Linked DNA regions of Homo sapiens. The protein of the gene in region 2 interacts with the protein of the main gene of each other region in a pairwise test. Each region holds a gene or a part of one and is shown on either strand. Other genes may lie near its edges.

The links. Proteins that work in one complex are often made in the same cells at the same time.
Region 1: the proteins of SH3RF1 (region 2) and WIPF1 interact in a two-hybrid assay, tested with the Homo sapiens proteins (one large-scale study listed by BioGRID).
Region 3: the proteins of SH3RF1 (region 2) and NHSL2 interact in a two-hybrid assay, tested with the Homo sapiens proteins (one large-scale study listed by BioGRID).
Region 4: the proteins of SH3RF1 (region 2) and SORBS2 interact in a two-hybrid assay, tested with the Homo sapiens proteins (one large-scale study listed by BioGRID).

Annotation. Positions count from the first base shown.
Region 1 is NC_000002.12:174,563,305-174,566,804, forward strand, and holds part of WIPF1 (WAS/WASL-interacting protein family member 1), read right to left. Parts: intron 1-3,500. UniProt on the Homo sapiens protein: Plays a role in the reorganization of the actin cytoskeleton. Contributes with NCK1 and GRB2 in the recruitment and activation of WASL.
Region 2 is NC_000004.12:169,117,457-169,120,956, forward strand, and holds part of SH3RF1 (E3 ubiquitin-protein ligase SH3RF1), read right to left. Parts: coding exon 3,363-3,500; intron 327-3,362; coding exon 67-326; intron 1-66. UniProt on the Homo sapiens protein: Has E3 ubiquitin-protein ligase activity. In the absence of an external substrate, it can catalyze self-ubiquitination. Stimulates ubiquitination of potassium channel KCNJ1, enhancing it's dynamin-dependent and clathrin-independent endocytosis.
Region 3 is NC_000023.11:72,141,345-72,144,844, reverse strand, and holds part of NHSL2 (NHS-like protein 2), read right to left. Parts: exon of another isoform or gene 3,483-3,500; intron 2,614-3,482; coding exon 2,481-2,613; intron 1,593-2,480; coding exon 1,271-1,592; 3' UTR 1-1,270.
Region 4 is NC_000004.12:185,620,195-185,623,694, forward strand, and holds part of SORBS2 (sorbin and SH3 domain-containing protein 2), read right to left. Parts: coding exon 2,720-3,500; intron 1-2,719. UniProt on the Homo sapiens protein: Adapter protein that plays a role in the assembling of signaling complexes, being a link between ABL kinases and actin cytoskeleton. Can form complex with ABL1 and CBL, thus promoting ubiquitination and degradation of ABL1.

The DNA.
Region 1 (3,500 bases), on a different chromosome or scaffold from region 2:
CTCACGCCTGTAACCCCAGCACTTTGAGAGGTTGAGGAGGGATGATGGCTTGAGCTCAGGAGTTTGAGACCAGTCTGGGCAACATAGCAAAACCCTGTCTCCACAAAAATTAGCCGGGCATGTTGGTGTGCGCCTGTCCCATAGTCCCAGCTACCTGGGAGGCTGTGGTGGGAGGATCACCTGAACCTGAGAGGTCGAGGCTGCAATGAGCCAAGATTGCGCCACTGCACTCCAGCCTGGGTGACAGAGTGAGACCCTGTCTCAAAAACAAAATAAAAACCAAAACCAAGCTATTCATGGGCTATCAGTCCACTGTAACTAGGCTTAAAACCCATTCACATAAAAAAAATTCATTTACTACACAAACATTTGTTGAGGATTTAACAGGTGTTTGGCATGAGGTCAGGTGCTCAGATGTTGTGAACAGGTCTAACTGGGGCATGTGTCAATCAGGTAGGTCTGCTCTAACCACTGCTCTGAGACTCAGTGGGCTGGAACTGGCAGATTCCTCAAGTAGGCATCTTGATAGGGACCCTACTGGTCCACTTAGGGATTTCTGAGAAAGAACCAAATTTCTGAGCAAGGAAGGGAGTTAGGAGAAAACACTGAAAGAAGCACCTCTTCCTCTCACCATCCCAACCAAATATTTTCTTGGGCAGGCATCTGAGAAAAGACTCATCTGGATGTAAACCAGACACCTATCATGGGGCCTTGACCATCAACTGACCCGCCACAAGTGGTTAGTAGAATGAGGGCTGGCCTTGTCCAAAGCTGTAATTAGAGGGCACTCCAAGTGCATTCGGTACTGCTCAGGGCTGTCTGGGTGCGCTCTCAGGCTGTGGGCTTGGAGGCTGAGGCTGCTGCAGAGCAGAGGAAAACTTGGTACTCGACGGTGCCTTATTTATTTTTGTTAGATGATCCATTATCATTATAAAATATTAAACATGCCTAATGCTGGAAATATTTAAGGCAAATCTACAAAAAAATTTTGGTAGACTGTGGAAATTAATTCACCAATTTAAAAACTACTTTTAGGCGAGGCATGGTAGCTCATGCCTATAATCCAGTGCTTTGGGAGGTTAAGGCAGGGGACTACTTGAGGCCAGAAGCTCAAGACCAGCCTGGGTGACATAGAGATATCCTGTCTCTATAAGAAAATTTTTAAAAAGAAATACTTGAAAATGCCCTTTATGTTTCAGGCTCTGTGCCCCTCAAGGAAGGTGCAATAGTGAGCAGGACACAGTTCTAGTCCTTACATTGCCTACTCAAGTCTTAAAGGAGGATGGGAGAAGATATATGCTTAGCTATTCCATTAAAGATCTAGAGGGTACAGGGAAGATGGTCTATTACCAATTTAAAAATAGAAATAATATTTAGAATAAGAAGCAAATAATAAGTTAGGAAAAATATTTGGAGTCTATATGAACAACTCCTTAAAGTCAATTCATTTATTGGTGCCCAAGAAGGAAGAAGGGCTGTACTCTTATCAAACAGAAGCCCTTCTTCTGGTGCACACACACACACACACACACACACACACACACACACCATTCAAAGATATCTGTCCCATGTGAAAACTTACTTTTCACTAACACTTTTTTTTTTTTTTTGAGATGGAGTTTCGCTCTCGTTGCCCAGGCTCAAGTGCAATGGCGACTTCTGCTCACCGCAACCTCCACCTCCTGAGTTCAAGCAATTCTCCTGCCTCAGCCTCCTGAGTAGCTGGGATTACACGCATGCGCCCCTATGCCCGGCTAATTTTGTATTTTTAGTAGAGACAGGTTTTCTCCATGTTGGTCAGGCTAGTCTCGAACTCCTGACCTCAGGTGATCTGCCCACCTCAGCCTCCCAAAGTGCTGGGATTACAGGCGTGAGCCACCGTGCCTGGCCTTCACTAAAAATTTCAATCATCAACTCTTGTATAATAATTTTATTATAGCTATACTTCTTCATTAGGTATTGTCTATGAATGCAGTCTTCCACAGAAACAAATCTTTTCAGGAATTAAAGTTTTCCTTTTAAGCAGTAGTATTCTGTTTTCTTCTAGCATTTGTCCATGGAAATTTTCCTATATTTTCTAACTCTTTAAATTTTTCTACAGAGGCACAAAGCACAGTTTGACTCAATTAATTTAATTCCATTTAACCCAATAGAAATTCAACCCAACAGAAACATCTGGTGTTGTCCTGCGCTGTGACACACAGCACAGCCATGTTCCTGTCTCCTCCTCTGACCTGGGACTGCCATCTGTCACTTCTCTCCCATGTCAGTGATTTTGCTTCTCACCAGTCTTAACTTTAGCTGTTATTAATCTCCTATAAGGTTTGGAACCAACCAACCAAAAATTACTTTAAACTGTGTTAGGAAAGAATCAGTAGGCTTTGAGTACATGTAAGGTGCTCTGTTAGGGAGTGGGGCCATCGCTAGGGGTGTTGTGACATATTTGACTTGTTTGCTTAAGTTTTCTCTATTTCTGGTTTGGGAATTTGGCTCTGAGGCTAAGGCTGCCACGAACCTCAGCCTCATGGATGACATATGCATATTTCATGCTAATTCTTTCTTCGTTGTATACATTTTTTTTTATTTTTATTTTTTTTGAGATGAAGTCTCGCTCTGTCGCCCAGGCTGGAGTGCAATGGCGCAATCTCAGCTCAGTGCAACCTCTGCATCCCGGGTTCTAGTGATTCTCCTGCCTCAGCCTCCTGAGTAGCTGGGATTACAGGCACACACCACCATGCCCAGCTAATTTTTGTATTTTTATATTTTTAGTAGAGATGGGGTTTCACCATGTTGGTCAGGCTGGTCTCGAACTCCTGACCTCGTGATCCGCCCACCTCAGCCTCCCAAAGTGCTGGGATTACAGGCGTGAGCCACCATGCCCAGCTATTGTGTTTTTTTAAAAGTAAATTTCAGAGGCTTTCCAGCAAAACCCTGGAAAGCCTGCTAGACAAATTCTCAAAGAGCTGTAACACTTCCTATACATTTACTGTTATAAAATTCCAGTTTGTCTATTTTTCCTTTCTTGTTGACATTCTTCTTCAATGGAGGAAAAGCAATTTAGTTCTTTATGGTAGCATTACCTACATTAGCAGAACAACAGAAATAATTTAAATGTCCATGGTAATGGTAAATTACTATATGCTGAAATAAAAACCATGTGATAACATGGGCACTATTTACTAAGCAATGTTATGTAAACCCCGCCAAAAAACTGTACATCGTCATTATAACTACATAAAAAAACAGAATTATATGGATAAAAAATTGGATGAGAATCTGGTAAAATGAAAATATCTATTATGTGGAGAGATTATGGATATATTTACATTTTCATGTAATGCTCTGTAAAGCTATGATTACAATACGTTTAAAAGATCAAGGCAGTTAAAGGGAGTTTTTGTTATAATTAATCAGACATTATGCCAATTTCAAAACTAGAAGGAATAGAAGATGGCTCTACTTGTGCTGTCTCAGGAAGATGAAAACAGAGGAAGACGTCC
Region 2 (3,500 bases):
AAAAGATCTACTATTAGGCAGGTAAGCCCTTTATCCTGATATGTTCTGGCCTGGGTTCCTCCTTACCTGTCCTCACAGCATTGCGGGCCTGGTTGACTGTCATTTGCCCCGTCATGTGCAACAAGACCTTAGCCTGAGGACTTGTCTGGATGTGAGCTGCTGATACCACAGCTGCGGGGACAACACTGGGACTCCCAGCCACGCCATTTCCCTGGAGCTTCTGGGCAGGCCCTCCTGCCGTGGAAGGACTGACCATGGTCACTCCCCGACTTGTCTGGCCAGCTGTAGACATAGGGACTTTAGCTTGGGAAGCATTTGTCACCGCCCTGCCAAGACACAAACATAGATGGAAAGCCCAGTCCATCAGCAAAATGACAGAAAGAACAATTAAATGCAAGAAAAATGACTCAGAGCTTTAAACATAGAACATTTTAAAAAATGAATGGAATTATTTTTATAAAGTTTAAGAATAGAAAATTCAACGTAATGATGGCTGAGACAGAGAAAGGTCTTGAAATATATTCTGAGTCACCAGAAACCACACGTCATACTCTGCTCAAGAATATACAGTTATTGCATTCAGCTTTCCATAACAAGACCAAATATCTCCACTGACTTTCAAGGCCCTGGATTCTCCCCCTTCATCTACAGAACAAGCTAGGATCATTCCCTGACAATATCCCCATTTCCATATCTTTGCTCCTGTTTCCTGGCTTCCTACTTGCCTCCAGCTCCACATCACACATGTGCCCATGTACATGCATGCACACACATACACGCACTAGTGGAAAGTCCTCTCCGTCTTCTCTTGACATATTGTAATCTCATTTATGTTTCAAGATCCAGCATGAACACTGTCAGTTCAAGAAGCCTTGCCTCAGATTCAGGTTTAAGATCTTATGATTCTATTGTTTCATGTGGATTTCTTCTTTCATTCTGTTTCTAAACTCCACAATTGTTTATGCTTTGGCCCTTGATTACAAAATGTGGTATATTATTATTAGTAGTAGTAGTATTTTTTTTGAGACAGAGTCTCACTGTTGCCCAGGCTGGAGTGGAGTGGTGCGATCTCAGCTCACCCCTCTGCCTCTCAGGTTCAAGTGATTCTCCTGTCTAAGCCTCCCGAGTAGCTGGGAGTACAGGCACGCGCCACCATGCCCGGCTACTTTTTTGTATTTTTAGTAGAGGTGGGGTTTCACCATGTTGGCCAGGCTGGTCTCGAACTCCTGACCTCAGGTGATCCACCCGCCTCAGCCTCCCAAAGTGCTGGGATTACAGGTTTGAGCCAACGCGCCTAGCTGGTGTATTATTTTTTAAATAAATTCTTTATCAAATACTGCTGACTTGGTAAGTTCCTTGAAAGCAGGGCCAGTGTGAAATAACTCTCCTGTATTCATCCTGTATTTGCACATGCTCAGGGTTACAGCCAACTCTAAACATCTATTTACTCACTGAATGTAATTAAGTTCAGTATAGTTTTGTGTAATGTGTTTTTTTCCATATTCCAAATTCATTTAAATGATAACAATTCTGTATATAGTAACTTTCTACTAAGAAAACACTTCATTAGCTTGAACATCCTTATTATTTACCATGAATGACAGAATTTACTGTAAGCACATATTCCTCTAGAGTTAAACAAACAGATAGATTTTTTTTTTCCTTAGGATGGAGTCTTGCTCTGCCGCCCAGGCTGGAGTGCAGTGGCATGATCTCGGCTCACTGCAGCCTCCGCCTCCCAGGTTCAAGTGATTATCCTGCCTCAACCTCCAAAGTAGCTGGGTCTACAGGCACGTGCCACCATGCCTGGCTAATTTTTGTATTTTTTTTTTTTTTTTTTTTTTTTTTAGTAGAGATGGGGTTTCACCATGTTGGTCAGGCCTCAAGTGATCAACTCCTGACCTCAAGTGATCTGCCCACCTTGGCCTCCTGAAGTGCTGGGATTACAGGCGTGAGCCACTGCACCCGGCTATACAAGCAGAGAGACTTCTAATAATTGGTTTTTGATAAAGATGTTTGACAAAAAAATTTTTATAAAAATGTTTTCCTTCATTAACTTTATTTTTTTGTTCTTTGTTGCATTTCTCTTATCCATTATTATCATTATTTTGCACCAGGGAGGTTCTATCTGTCATTTTCTGGATGGGATGGATTCTGAATGTAGATTTTAACATACATAGAAAAGAATGTTTATATTGATTAAAAATTTGCAAGTCAAATTAAAGTTAACATTCTGTCACCATCTGCAACAACAGTGATTTTCATTTGATTAGGCTGCTGGCCAACCTATAAATCAAGGCCAACAGCTGACAAACATGTCAGTTCATTAAGCTATTTGTTTAAAATCAGGCGGTTTGAGGAAAGATTTAATGCAGTTAGACCTGGACTGTATATTAAACGGCCGGTGGTCAAAAACTAGGGCTCCCTCAGTGTTGATTTCATTACAGGTCATTTAACTGTTTCCAAGGCTTCTTTCCTCAGTGACCAAAAGCTGAACTATCTTTACATAAAATATATAAAATTTTGCATATCTAAAGCTCCTGTCACTCTATAACAGGGTTTCTCAACCTCAGTGACATTTTAGGCCAGATTATGATTATTTTTTGTGGGAGGCTGTCCTATGCATAGGATGTTTCACTCTTAGCCTCTATCCACTAAAGCCAGTAGCACCCCTAACCTCTAGTCGTGACAATCAAAAATATTTCTGGATATTGTCAAATGTTCCCTGGGGAGCAAAACTGCCCTCAGTTGAGAAGGATCTATGCTATACTTAAAATTTTTATTTCTGACTATATTATAGAATTCATTGTCAGAATTCAGAGGTAATTACCAAGTTAATGAAATAAATATAAATCTAGATCACCAGGGTTTGAGTTTGAGCACTTCTTCACTATGTGATCTCAGACAAGCTGTATGATATCTCTGTGCCTCAATGTAACAGCAACTAAGAAGTAAGGTTAATCAGTGTAATGCATTTATAAATCTGCCTGCCTGGCATATAGTACGCATTATATAAACACATAAGTATTAATAATATAGCTTTTCTTTGTATCAACACTATGCCTTTTCTAGTAGAAAAATACTGAAAATGGTGTTGTTGAACCTTCTCCCATTAAAGCAAATAACTTAAAACCCAGTACATTTACTGGTAGAAACCTATAATTTCACATATATCCATGTGAAAATAAGCTAAAAATTTTAGAGTTAGAAGGGATTTTAGCAGATGTAGACATGGATTTTTAAAACCTTGGCTATGTAACAGGCAATTATAATGTGAAAGGAATCTGGATAGGCTGAAAACCATGGAAAAGAACAAAGCTTCTCTGTTTAGAACATAGTAAACAATGTATTCAAAACCATACCTTGTGACTGGTGCCACATAATTGCCAGGGAAAACCCCTATCTTGCTGGTATGCATGGATGTCCCTTTGAACCAGCCATCCTGGCAGCGCTCAAACACTAAAAACATCTCCCCTTTTCTCAGCTCTAGTTCATCCTCT
Region 3 (3,500 bases), on a different chromosome or scaffold from region 2:
TTCAGTATGCCATTTACCCAGGTTCTTATGCTCTCCCCCAGCAAGGTTAATTGAAAGCTGGTCAAACACAGAACCTAAATGGCAAAAAGTAGCCCTTTTGTGTGTGTGTGTGTGTGTGTGTGTGTGTGTGTGTGTGTGTGCATTATGGGCCATAGCAACTGGCAAGACTGCCTTTTAGATTTTGGATAGATCCTTTTAGTTTATATGTTCTTGGTTTTTGGAACAGAGTCGGACTTCCTTTAAACAAAACCAAACCAACCACAAACCACGATCTGAATTGACTGGTGGGGGGCAAGATGCACTTACTTTCCATTATCCTTGAGCCTTTGATGATGCTGTTCCTTCAGTTAATTACTTCCTGTAATGAATTTTATATGCAAATGAAATGAGAGTTCTTAGAATGCAGCATGAGCTGGGCGCAGATCCTGCCTATCGCTGTTGACAGACACATGGAGGATCTCAAGGTGCACTTGTGAGTTACCTCGGCTAGATCTGAGTGAACAAATGGCTGTCTTGTTTGTTGGTCAAGCTTGGTTCATTTAAAGCAACCCAGTCCTGGTCTTTTCTAGCTAATGGGGGTGGGTGGGGGGGCGTCTATATGTTTATTGAAACTTATCACCCTGATCTCCATGTAGACAATCAAACTGAAAAAGGCATTAAGTTTCAGGACAGAGTCACAGTCATATTTTGCACCACAAAAGCCATCCAATCAACCTCATGCCGAAATAAGTGCACCCTGCAAACCTCTTGTGAGCGCAGGGGAAAGCTAAACTGTGGTTGAGGAGGCATCAGAGTCTTTCTGTGTTTGCACACAGGGCCATCAGAGCCTCCCTAGGAAAGTGAATAATAAGCAATGGCACCCTATGCCCCCCAAGTTTGGCAGCCTCCAATCTGCTCTCACACTGCACTCCTCAGTGACAGGAGCCAGGGATGGAGCAGCCGGGTCACTGAATTGAAAAAGTGGCACATGTGCCCTGACATCTGAAAATTTCTTCTTAGTTAGTGCACACCACTGGGGGAAAATAAGAAGAAACTCGGTAGTCAGTCATGACAAGCTTATAAGTATGAAAACATAAAAATGTCTGAAGATGATTAAGTGCCAGATGATTTTAGCTCTAGATGAAGTAGCCTCTCTCCTGCTGTCCAGAGTGTGAGTTAATATAAAAGAAATGTAGGCTCTGTTGTTCCCATGGTTCTGTTTAAAGACCCTTTCTCTTCCCCCTTCTCTACTCAAGTTTAGTAAGTAAACCCTGCTTGTTGAGCCCAGGGCTTAGGTACTGGGGTTATCGGTGGTTTCATAGTCTTTTGAAAATTGTGCAATAATTCTCCGAGCCAGTGGGTTAGTGGTCTTCAGAAGTTCAGCTGCTGAGGGACGAGACCTTGGAGTTGCCTTACTTCCCTTCTTCTGTAGCAAGGCCTTGAAATCGTCATTTCTGCCAGCATCTAGGTTGGCACTGCTGCCTGACCCTGCAGTGGCGGTAGACTCACTGATTGGAGACTCAGCTGTGTTCTTTATTGGTGAGTGGGAACTCGTTCTGCCACCCACAAAGGCCTCACCAGGTTCCTTCCAGCCGAGCAGCTTCCTTTTGGACCTAGATAAGAGAAAGTTTGGTCTGAGTGAGTTAATGCAGCAGACATTTACCAGTGCTTCACAGACCCCCATGCCTGTGACACAATCCAGGCGGCAGCCCTGCAAGCAGCCGTATTGACCTGCTTTCTCTCTCTCTCACCTCTAAATCCTCAGAGTCCCTTGTTGGGCCCTCCCGTCCCCATATTCCTTTCAATGCCCCCAGCTGGAGTCACTTGTCCTGTGCCTGTAGCCTCAGTCCTGCCCAGGTTCTGGGACCAAGGACGAATTTCAGGAGTCAAGGCTAGTAGCTCAGTGACTCTGAATCAGGACAGCCTGGGGACTGATCCTGTTCTGGACTGGTGGTCTAGCTCCAATAATAAACTCTTCCCAGTTTTCTTGTCACTGAACCCCTGCCTTGTAACCCTGTCCAATAACTGGTCCCCATCTGGTTCCTCTTTTCCTAAGTTCCTGTTTTGATATGCTGCCTGGTGCCCCACTTCAACTCTTGATGGGATTTTTTTGATACAAGGAATTCTGTGAAGGGTTAAATGTCTCTGACTATAGACAGAGCTAAGAGAGAGCAGATGGAGCCACAATAGGCCAAGTGGTTGCTAGGAGACGAGGGGCCTCTCACTCGGCACCTGGTCCTCCTCTCCCCTCCCTTCCTCCACTTTACCCAACGATGTCAGTGAATTTGAGATGCGAGGCCCTGGACTGCGCTCACATATGTGGGTATCTGAACTTAGCCTCCAGGTGCAATTCTAATGGCTGCTTAAAGGTAGCAGTTTTTCTTATTTTTAATTTTTTTCTTTTTCTTTTACAATTAGGATTTCAATGTGGAATAGCAGGTTTTCTTTAAGTACAAAAAGGGAAGGCAATTGCAATTAGAATTAAGGAAATTGGTGCAGACCTGTGTATCACAGTAAATAAATCTTCAGTTGTGCGTGAAGCCACAAACACGTCATCATCATCCTCTGCAATCCATTCAGCTGTTTTATCACTGATTAAACTTTTTTCTTCGGTGCCTGGTTCCACAGAACTCCCTAGACATAAAAAACCAAAAGGAATGACTTTGACCACAGTAGATAGGACAAAGCACATTCTCATATGTTATTTCATTTGATGGTGAAAGCAACTCTGTGAGGGCAGCAGGGTGGAGATTTTTAATACCTCCATTTTGCAGAGGAGGAATATGAAGTTCAGAAGCTTAATGATTTGCCCAAGGTGGAGTGAGTGGTGAAGATCAGCGTGGGTCCCTATTCTGTCATGTCTTTGTCATTATAACAGGTGGCCCGAGCATTCTCTTGTTTTAAACACTGTATATCATTTCTCCAAATGAAGGAGCTGGGAGTGATCTAAACTAGTGACTCCCACCCAGTGGGTGAGAGTGGAACCTATTTGAATCTCAGAGGGGAGCCTGTGGAGTCTGAGGAAGTGTTTTCTACAACTACCTGGGGCTTTGATTTATTTACTTGACTTAGTCATAATTGACTCATATTGAAAGTCCAAATTTGCATATAGAAGGCCATGAGATTTTGATTTTTGGTGTTAAGGGTTCAGAAAAGAATGAGAAACATGGATGAACCCTGACAACATTAAGCTTAGTGGAATAAGCCAGTCACAAAAAGACAAATACTGTATGATTCCACTTATATGAGGTGTCTAGAGTCAAATTCATAGAGACAGAAAGTAGAATGGTGGTTGGAGGGAGGAATCTGCGGGGAGGGAGAAGGAGGAGTTGTTGTTTACTGGGTACAGAGTTTCAGTTTTGCAAGATGAAAGGAGTTCGGGAGATTGGTTGCTTAACAATGTGAATGTGCTTAACACGAATGAACTGCACACTTAAAAATGGTCAAGATGGTAAATGTTATGGGTACTTTACCACAATTAAAACAAAAAGAGACAGAAAAAGAAAGGATGAGAAGCATTA
Region 4 (3,500 bases), about 17 Mb from region 2:
TTACAAGCCAACCTGTTCCGCCATTTTCCCTGGTGGCCACTACTTTTTTCCCCAAATTTGGAGAGACACCGTTATCGAACACATGGGCATAAAACTCATAGTTCATTACAAAGTTGTGAAATAAGACACAAAACAAGAGCATTTCAAAAGGAAAAATATCTGAGGTTGCAGAATTATAATTGTCTATATAAATATGATTACTACATTGCTGATTAATTATATTGCCACACCCAGTAAGACAATTTATAGTTAGAGGGATTTTTCATATAAATTTTTTCCAAAGCTTTCTGTTTCTATGCCTTTGCTTCTTATTTATAATTACTATTATAAGATTTACAGAGGATGGAGAATTTGAAAATAGCAACAATTTGTAGAAAAAGAAACATTTTGTGGAGTAATTTAAGACTGTAGTAATGAAAAAGAAAGAGATAAAACCAAAGAAAGTATGAGGATGACAGGAGGGTGGTGATGAACATTCTCCTTCTGCCTTACTCTCCCCTCTTCGCTCTTCCTCTGTTTTTAAATACTTATTGAATCTCAAGATGCCATGCTGTTTATCTACGACCTTCCTTTGTGCCCAGATGATAAACACCTTATCAGAAAGCAAAGAAACAAAGAGATATTGTTTCTTCTTACTCCAAGCAAAAAAGGGATAAACAGAAAGCATCATGTCAGTTGCCAAATTGCTTATGAAATATTGAATTATTTTTGTTCATCTTAAAGCAAAGCATAAATAATCACATTACAAAATTTTGATTGCATGTAGTTCTTAATAGTATCTTATACCTTTTGCACTTACGTGACTTACATATGGAGATGTAACTAGACATTAAATGTATTCCAGTAGTCTATGTTATAGAATTTTATCAGTACAACTGGGTCAATATTTGTCAATTCTTTCTTTTATCCCTTAAATATATCTAGTTATCCAGACTAACAAGAAGCATTAAAAATAAAATTTATTTTATCCATCTATGAAAGAATTTAAAGTGCTGATTCATAATAAGAAAACATTGTTTTAGGATTTTGACTACTTTGATGATGTAAATTCTAAGTTAATATACTTTTATGATCATAGGGCCTCATAATGATCATAAATTTTAAATTACTTTTTCTAACCCAGGGAATATAAGCTATTTTTCACTTGGGTGAAACACAATTGGAAAGTAAATATTTTACTAAAAAACAAAATACTTTTAAATGCATTTCAAAGCCCTTCCAAGTTACGTTTCAAAAATGTACTCCTATCTGCACATAAAATTGAGAGATGGTTATATTAGGATATTAAAAGCCTGGAGAAGGTAGCTAATTTATTAAAAAATGAGATTCTGACACATTTCAATTAGTGAAAATTTTGAATTGTAGAAATTGATTTTTTAAATTCTAATTTATTATTTTGAAGCATGTTGCTTCAGCCTAAGGGTAGGCAAAGATAAACGTAAGTGTATAGTGTAGCAAAAGTGAAAGCAAACATAAAGACTAAGTAGATTTGTGCAAGTTAATTAACAATCGAGCCATATTTGACACTAGTATGAACTGTGAATTATGTCTTTTTTTTTGTCTGAGATTATATTTTATACTATAAATTCTGAATTATTAGGGGTTTGAATCTCTTTTCTGTTATCTACTCTCTGTGTGACCTTGGACGAATTTCCTTTCCTCTCTGGGCCCAACTTCCAAAATTGAAAATGGCTTTTGAAATAACACCCATTTCATAGGCCTATGCCAGTTTTATTAGATAATGTATGTAAAGCACTCTGTAGTGTCTGGTGCATAGAAGTTTCTCTGTTGACCAACTTTCAGCCCGGAATGTTCATTCCAGCCTCTTAAAATTTACGTAGTGAACAGATGTGCTGTAAGAATTAATGAAAATAATTGGTCACAAATATTAAAACACCCTGGGCTGTAAGTTATATAAATCTCAAAAATAGTCCTCTGCCTTTCAATTGCTATTTATTCTTGTGTTGCCACTTCAAAGTTATCTATGAAAATAGAGTTTAGAGTCACTGTTAGCCTGAATAGTGTAATTCAAATTTCAATACAGGACTGTTTTAGCAGAAAGAGAAAGTGAATGAATTAAGTAATGGAAAAGAGAAAATGAATACACTAAATGGTGGAAATGGGACTTTTATATATATAGCTTAAAGATACATTCACAAAAATTTTATCACCATTGTGTCCTTGAAATGGAGAAAGCTATTAAACAAACCCTAATTTCTTTGTGTCCATCAATTACTAATCACATATTTCAGTTTTGCTTCTTGAATGTTTTGATATAGTATCTTCTATATAGAATGTGACAAATTATTTATTAACTGAATGAATATAAAGTTTTAACGTTAATATAAACATTTTTAAAAGGCTATTTGTGGAACTATAGGTTTTGATTCATGTCACAACGTAATTTATTGTCTCAATGTGAGTAGTGGTTGTTTCAACCCTAATGCTGAGCTACAAAATGGCCTTCCCTCTCGTTTTCGAAAGAGTAAATTTTTGTGAATTGATGATCACTTTAAGCCACACATCAAGTCCAAATATCACATGGGCAAATGAGAAATATTCAGTAAGACATATTTGCACAACAAGTTTTTGCTTCACAACACATAACGACGCCAAATGGTCTCCCAGCTCGGGAGTGATGAGATGTTGGAATGGAAAATGAAAGAGCTGGAGGGTGGGTCTCTGAACCACAAGGAAAAAGAAAGAAAAGCTCATCCACCTTGGAGTGCACCGCCACGGTCTTGGTGGTGGCAGCTGCTGTTGGCTGTGTCCACGTCTTGGAAAGAGGCACTGCGGGGCATTCTCCCGCAGTCATTCTGGTAGGGTGGACAATGAATAGCACCATCGGGAGGCAGTGGGTGGAGAGGCTGGTGCAGGGGGCTCCTCCTCAGCGCTCTCAGGGATGAGTTCCTCTCGGGAACATCTGGCAGCAGCTCACTGATGAGGCGGTGCAGGATGCTGTTGTCCGGCAAGCTCCCCCTTTTCTTTTCAGCTTTAATTTGGTCACAGATGTCTTTAAGGGCAGAGTCCAGAGCCTCAAACACAGATGCTTTACATTTTGCCTTTTCAGTCTGTTTCTTAGGAGCCGAATTTTTTTTCCTCCGGAAAGGCACAGGACTGACTAGAAAAGCAAGTTTAGAAAGGCCAGGGTCCATTTCTTGCCTTCTGGGCTCCTCGGTGTTTTCGTGTCTGGCTCTTTCGTGTTTTAACATTGTGGTAAATCGAGTGTAGGAGGCCGGGCACCTGCCTTTGCAGGAGCTGATGAGGTGGCGGTGGTGGTGGTGGTGGTGATGGTGGTGGTGGTGGCTGGATCCGTAAAAGCTTTCGGAGGATGTGAAGGAAAAGTGATCAAAGTCACTTTCACTGCAGAAGGATGACCCCTCTAGGTGAATGTAGTCACTGTGGTCGGACACAACCCCGTCCTGGTCGCTGTCGGAAAACTCCACGTGTGCTCGGGGCTGCTCATCGCTGGTGACTTCAATGTGAATGGGCACCAGGGC